2 linked regions of the Homo sapiens genome follow. The protein of the gene in region 2 interacts with the protein of the main gene of each other region in a biochemical or structural test. Each region holds a gene or a part of one and is shown on either strand. Other genes may lie near its edges. The genes, in order: RAB6A and KIF20A.

What was found.
Region 1: the proteins of KIF20A (region 2) and RAB6A form a complex in vitro, tested with the Homo sapiens proteins (2 studies listed by BioGRID).

Annotation. Positions count from the first base shown.
Region 1 is NC_000011.10:73,754,369-73,758,186, reverse strand, and holds part of RAB6A (ras-related protein Rab-6A), read left to right. Parts: intron 1-3,818. UniProt on the Homo sapiens protein: The small GTPases Rab are key regulators of intracellular membrane trafficking, from the formation of transport vesicles to their fusion with membranes.
Region 2 is NC_000005.10:138,182,006-138,185,379, reverse strand, and holds part of KIF20A (kinesin-like protein KIF20A), read right to left. Parts: intron 3,058-3,374; coding exon 2,919-3,057; intron 2,795-2,918; coding exon 2,607-2,794; intron 2,520-2,606; coding exon 2,390-2,519; intron 2,212-2,389; coding exon 2,017-2,211; intron 1,911-2,016; coding exon 1,799-1,910; intron 1,693-1,798; coding exon 1,624-1,692; intron 1,419-1,623; coding exon 1,275-1,418; intron 1,142-1,274; coding exon 976-1,141; intron 869-975; coding exon 704-868; intron 574-703; coding exon 434-573; intron 286-433; coding exon 183-285; intron 1-182. UniProt on the Homo sapiens protein: Mitotic kinesin required for chromosome passenger complex (CPC)-mediated cytokinesis. Following phosphorylation by PLK1, involved in recruitment of PLK1 to the central spindle. Interacts with guanosine triphosphate (GTP)-bound forms of RAB6A and RAB6B.

The sequences.
Region 1 (3,818 bases), on a different chromosome or scaffold from region 2:
TGATCTCTGTTTTCATGGTCAGTGTCTATAGTTTTCTTATGCGTTAGAAGTCTGTAGACTCCATGTCCTTTTGATGTAACTCTTCATGAATTATTTATTTTTAGGTCTGTTAGAATTCCACAATTCAGCTTTCAAAGACTGTAATCTATGGCAAAGCCTTGTTTCTTCTTAATAGCATTTACCACATTTACAATTATCTTATTTTTTATGTGTTTGTTTTTATTTCCCACAGAAGAATGCAACTCCCATGAAGATAAAAACTATTCTTTTTTGTTCAGTGTGTCCCCATTGCCTAGCGTAGAGCCAGGCTCATAGTAGCTGTTCAGACATGTTGGGTAAATGAATGATGGCTGAATCTAGTAGTAACGAAAGCTAGTAGCCTATGTTACACTCTTTGACATGGTTACGCAATTGATAGTTTAACAATAACACTTAAAACTTACATCATTTGATTGTATACAGGAATATATCAGATACTTAAGGGGGTAGAGAAACCAATCGTTTAGAGGCCCAACCATTTCATTCAAAAAATAGGACTGACCTGAATTTTGTACTTTTTTTTGAGTTGAGCAAAATTCGTCTTCCTTTATTAAAGTTGTTAAATTATTTGCTATTAATGTAACGCATGAAAAGTATTCAAATTATACCAATGATGTGCTCATGGAACTGATTTGAAATTAGGTTTTATTTGGCTTATCAAAAATTTAAGATACTAGGCTGGGTGCGGTGGTTCATGCCTGTAATCCCAGCACTTTGGGAGGCTGAGATAGGTGAATCATCTGAGGTCAGCAGTTCAAGACCAGCCTGGCTAACATGGTGGAGTCCCCGGCTCCCCCCCACCCCATGGCCCGGTCTCTACAAAAATACAAAAATTATCCAGGTATGATGGCGGGTGGGAGCCTGTAATCCCAGCTACTCAGGAGGCTGAGGCAGGAGAATCGCTTGAACCTGAGAGGCGGAGGGTGCAGTGAGCTGAGATCATGCCATTGCACTGCAGCCTGGGTGACAGAGTGAGACTCTGTCTCAAGAAAAAAAAAAAAAAAAAAAAAAAAAAAAATATATATATATATATATATATATATATATATGTATGTATATTTAAGATACTACGCTCTATAGTGAAAATGAATTGTGTCAGTACATGAAGCAGATTGAGTTAATGACATCAATCTTAACCTTAGATAAATTCTTACGGTTTAATAAAGGAATGTTTGGCTGGGCGTGGTGGCTCACGCCTGTAATCCCAGCACTTTAGGAGTCCGAGGCAGGCAAATCACCTGAGGTCAGGAGTTCAAGACCAGCCTGGCCAACATGGCAAAATCCCATCTCTACTAAAAATCCAAAAACTAGCTGGGCGTGGTGGCGTGTGCCTGTAATCCCAGCTACTCAGGAGGCTGAGGCAGGAAAACTGCAACCCAGGAGGTGGAGGTTGCAGTGAACTGAGATTGCCCCACTGCACTCCAGCCTGGGCCTCAGAGCGAGACTTTGTCTCTAAATAAATAAATAAAGGAATGTTGAAATACACAATTGGAAGTTTCCTTGAGGAGTCTGTTTTGTTACTACCTCTGGCTATTGTCTTGAGATGCAGAGGCAGTTTTAGTAATGTCACTCAGTGGTTTACAGTAGAAGATTTCACTATATATACATGTTACCAATTATAAATTAGGAGATGTAATGGCAGAGAGAAGCGCATACTCAGCCTACTACTGTTTTTTTCACTTTATATTGCCTTTTCTTTTTTTCCATCAATGCTGATCAAATTGCAATATGTTAGATAAGGAAAAAATGTCTTATTGTCAGAGACTAGCAGTACTGACCAGTTGTTTTTCTTTTGAGACGGGGTCTACCTCTGTCACTCAGGCTGGAGTGCAGTGGTGTGATCTCAGCTCACTGCACCCTCCACCTCCCAGGCTCAAGTGATCCTCCCACCTCAGCCTCCCAAGTAGCTGGGACAACAGGCACGCACCACCACGCCTGGCTAATTTTTGTATTTTTTTGTAGAGATGGGATTTTACCATGTTGCCCAGGCTGGTCTCAAAGTTTTGAGCTGGCGAGATCCTCCGGCCTCAGCCTCCCAAAGTGCTGGGATTACAGGTGTGAGCCACCACGCCTGGCCAGTACTGAACATTTTATATTGGCTAGATCAGTGGTTTTTAAACTTTTTTTCCCCAAGACCCCTTTCTGCTCTTACAAATTTTTGAGGATCCTGAAGAGCTCTGTTAATGTAGTTGTTATTGTTGTTCTTCTTCCTCCTCCTCCTCTTCTTTCTCCTCCTCCTCTTCTTCCTCCTCCTCTTCCTTCTCCTCCTCCTCTTGTTCTTCTTCCTCCTCCTCCTCTTCTTTCTCTTCCTTCCCCCTTCTCCCTTCCTTCCCCCTTTCCACCTCCCCCTTCCTTTCCTTTTCTCCCTTCCTTCCTCCTTTCCTCTTCCCATTTCCTTCCCCCTTCTTGGATGCAGTGACTGTTCACAGGGGCTATCATGGCCAACTGCAGCCTTGTCTCAAGCTCTCCTCCTGCCTCAGCCTCCCTAGTAGCTGGGACTATAGGCACATGCCACTGTGCCTGACTTTTGTTTATGTAGTTTATGTCAACATTTAGGCCGGGTGCGGTGGCTCACGCCTATAATCCCAGCACTTTGGGAGGCCGAAGTGGGTGGATCACCTGAGGTCAGGGGTTCGAGACCAGCCTGGGCAACATGGCGAAACCCCGTTTCTACTAAAAATACAAAATTAGCCGGGCATGGTGGTGCGTGCCTGTAGTCCCAGCTCTTCGGGAGGCTGAGGCAGGAGCATTGCTTGAACTCGGGAGGTGGAGGTTGCAGTGAGCCAAGATCGTGCCACTGCGCTCCAGCCTGGGCAACAGAGTGAGGCTCCATCTCAAAATAAATGAATAAATATATCAACATTTACTGTATTGAAAAAGAAAATTTCAAAATATTTAATATGTTAAAAAATAATAGGGCCGAGCGTGGTGGCTCATGCTTGTAATCCCAGCATTTTGAGAGGCCGAGGTGGGCGGATCACTTGAGGCCAGAAGTTTGAGACCAACCTGGCCAATATGGTGAAACCCCGTCTCTACTAAAAATACAAAGAAATTAGCCTGGCATGGTGGTGGACGGTCCCAGTGGTAGTGCCAGCTACTCAGGAGGCTGAGGCAGGAGAGTCCCTTGAACCCGGGAGGTGGAGGTTGCAGTGAGCCAAGATCACGCCATTGCACTCCAGCCTGGGCAACGAGCAAAACTCCATCTCAAAAAAATAATAATAATAATAATAAACCCATTGCATGTTAATACCCTTTTTTTTTTTGACTGCATCCCTCTGTTGCCCAGGATGGAGTGAGTGCCTCCCGGGTTCGCGATTCTCATGCCTCAGCCTCCTGAATAGCTGGGACCACAGGTACATGCCGCCATGCCTGGCTAATTTTTTGACTTTTTAGTAGAGACAGGGTTTTGCTATATTGGCCAGGCTGGTCTCAAACTCCTGGCCTCAAGTGACCTGCTTGCCTTGGTCTCCCAAAGTGCTGGGATTACAGGCATGAGCCACTGTGCCCAGCCTTCATGTTAACATCATTTCTGAAATGAAAAAGAACTATTTTCCAAACAGATATTTAGTGAGAGTGACATTGTTTTACATATTTGCAAATCTCTTTAATGTCTGACTTAATAGAGGACAATTGGATTTGCATAGCTGCTTATGCATTCAATCCTGTAATATTACACATCATATAGGCACGGGGAAACTCCACAATACATTTCAAGAGAGTAAGAGTGAAAAATTCAAATAACATCTTAATCTTATGAAAATGGTTTTGACATCCAGGAG
Region 2 (3,374 bases):
GGCCAACTAAACCCTTAATCAATTCACCAAACATAGATTGAACCCAAAGCACTATGGGGAATAGAGAAAAGGGAGTTATATATTCCTGCCCTTACTGGAGTAGTTTATAAAATCTCTTTACTTCAGGCAAGCTAGTGATGGAAATCTGAGCAGCTAATTGGAGCTGGCTCAGGGCAACTCACCTGAATCTCTTCTTGGTAAAAACTTGTCAGTGACTCCTTGAGGATATTTAGTTTTTCTTCATACATTTCCTCCAATAGTTCCTTTTGGGTGTCCAAATGTTCACTGTCAGAAACAGAGGAGAAAAGAGAGGTAAGTGAAGGTTCTGAGGAGTGAACTTGGGGAACAGATCTTGAGGCACAACTCCACCTAACTCCTTACTTCCCACCCTCTGTCTCAGGTGACAGAGCAAGAGGGGTCACTCAGCTAGTACCTGCACCACTGTTCCCGCTGTTGCATCTGTTCTACCATCTCATTGCAAATTTCATCTCGGAGATGCATCTCCAGCTGTAGCTTTTCCTGTCGTTCCTTCAAAAGCAGTGTCTTCATGGCTTCCACAACTTGTAGGAGCTCCTAGGAGAGACACACATGTCAGAGGTCATCAGATGCTCATGCCCTCAGAAGGCACAAGCCCACCTGGAAGGCACCATGGAAAAATGTGTAGCTACTAAGCTGCTACACTAAAGCTTTCTTGTATTCTCACCTCTTTGCCATACATGGAGATGTCAGCTTCATTTTCAATATCATCATCAAGGCCTGTGTCTGCCTTAGCCCCTTTCTCTAAGCTGGGGGATACCTGAAGACTATGTTCCTTGATGAACGAGTGCAGGGATGGGAATCCCAGTTGCATAGGTGGGGCATGCACAAGCTAGAGGGAAAAAAAATATCTTACTTGACTCCATAAGTAGTCCCTAGGAGCTTTCTTAGAGTTACCAGTTCCAAGTGCGCACACCCATCACACCTCTAGCTTCTCACCTGGCTAGCAATGGCTGAGAACTTGGCCACATGAAGAGTTTCATCATAGGTAGATGCACAGGGATTCACATTGACAATCATGCAGGAACGGCCTCGGCCTGTGAAGAAACCTTGGAACACTCGAGTCAACTTGCTGTCACGGAAGGGAACCAGGTTCTGCTTTGACCTGGCAGAGAATCAGAGATAATAGAGCTGTGAGCAGAACACCAGCCCTTTGGGTATCCTAGCACCATCCCCAGTGGTGTCCAGGAAGTCTCTTAGCAAATTGCAGAGCCCAGGAATTATAGTCAAAAGCTCACCGGTTCTGCTGGTTTTGACGAAGGGCAGCAATACAGCGGCCCAGGGTGTGTAGAGAGGTGTTAATGTTTCCTGCTTCCTTCAACCGTTCACCACTCTTCTGATCTTTGCAGCGCTCTGAGCCAGCCAGATCACAGAGTGACAGCCTAGAATGATGCACAGGATCTGACATAAGGGCCTCACATGTTATGAGCCTTCTGGCCCTTTGTATAATTCTGGAGAGGGGACGGCCCACTAAGAATCTCTGTACCCAAAGAAGGAGAACACATAGTTCCCCTGAGGACCTCCTCCATGCTTTCCCAACTATCATTTATGGCCAAGAAGCCCAAATTTCTAAATGGATAAACTTACTCGCTGATCTTGGGGACTATATCTCCTTCCCCCTGAAGGTGTAGGATCCTGATTGAGAAGATGCTGTGACTGGAAGTTAAGAAAAACAAAAAGTCATTGCACATTTTCCATGACCAGGCAGAGGACTAATGTTTCCTGGAACACAGTGAAGAGTTTATTCTTACAATCTACTCACCTGCGGCTGGAGTTCTGGTTGAGGTGGGTGCTGGCAAAGCTCTGGTTCTTACGACCCACTTTTAGGAGCTTCCAGGCCTCCTCAGCATCTTGCACATGAATCCAGTTGAGATCTGGGGCCAAAGGAGAGGGGTGTAAGATGGGAACATCCAACTCTTTTGCCAGTCTCTCCCCAGTTGCCCTCCAGGGTTCATGCCAGCTTTCCCCATGTTCCTTTACCTTTCACATAGGGATTGCCATTTTGATCCTCGCATAGCCGCAAAGTCTGCCTCTTGCGCTGTTGGCTAGGCGGTTCTAATAGGTCATAAAGCAGTTCGTTGTAGATCTCAAAGAATGAGATCCAGATGGAGAAGCGAATGTTTGCCGGGACAGGTAGTGGGGCAGTGTCTGGCTGTGCCCATCGATGACTTGTTTCTGGAGAAGAAGCCAATGTATAGGGCATCAACCTAGAGCAGTTCACCTCTCTTTTGGCCTGCAGGGGCCTTGGAAGGCAGACCTTAGATTGCAACCTCTGGTCTGTACTCCTGGCAGCTATTAGGAACAGGGAGTGAGTTCCTACTATTTTTTGGCAGAGCCCAGTCACGGTACATACCATCCAGCTGGCTACTGCTGGTACACTGACTGATAGAAGAGAGCCCAGCAATGCCACTGTCGAAGCTGGTGCTGGTACCTATCCGACTTTCGATGTAGACACTCCTCTTCAAGGAAGTGGACAGCTCCTCCTGGAGGGGCACAGGGAGAAGGTAAGCACAAAACTTCCCCGAGATTTGTACCCCCTACCCCCACTGCCATGGATACCAATGCTTTACCTCTTGGAGGCCTCCATTTAGCAGGGACAGCTTCTTCATTTCCTCCTGTCGGATCTGCTTGCTGTCTAGCCAGATTACCTCATTGGAGAGCAAGGGCTTCAGATCAGGTGTTGGATGAAGTTGGCCTTGGAGGCTATTGAAGATCAGCGCCAGGGACCGGGGGAGAATCCCTCCATCCTTGATGGTACCTGGAGGCATATGAAAGATGGACAGCTGAGGCAAGTGCCCTTCTCCCCCTAACTCAGAGTCTCAAAAGGTAAAAACAACACCATTACCAGCCAATCAGGAATCCCGTGAAGGCTTACTACTCACCTTGAATCGTGTGGGTTTTCCCTGAGTTAGTGACTCCATATGTATAGATGAGCCAGTTCTGCCCTTTGAGTACATCCTTTACCATCTCCTTCACAGTTAGGTTGAAGAAGGATGCCTGTCCCACTTCTGGCCCAAAGATCTAGAGAGAGACCCAGTTTTTTAGAGGCCTCTCCTTCATCTCCCACTTGCCTCCTGTGCAGAGCCAGCAGATATATTCCTTCCTGAGTGGTTGGCTCTGGAGACCACTCAAGCAGCTTCTTCCTGCAATGCTGCTGGCTGTTCCCTAAACACTGAGGACTCAAGCACTCTCTGCTAGTCCATCTTTCCACCAAATCAACAAACACTTAAGGAATGCTATGCCCTAGGCCTGATGCTGCACACACAATGGGGCAATATAATGGCCCACAAGTATGGGCTTTGGAGATACATGGATCTAGACTCAGGTCCTAACTCTAC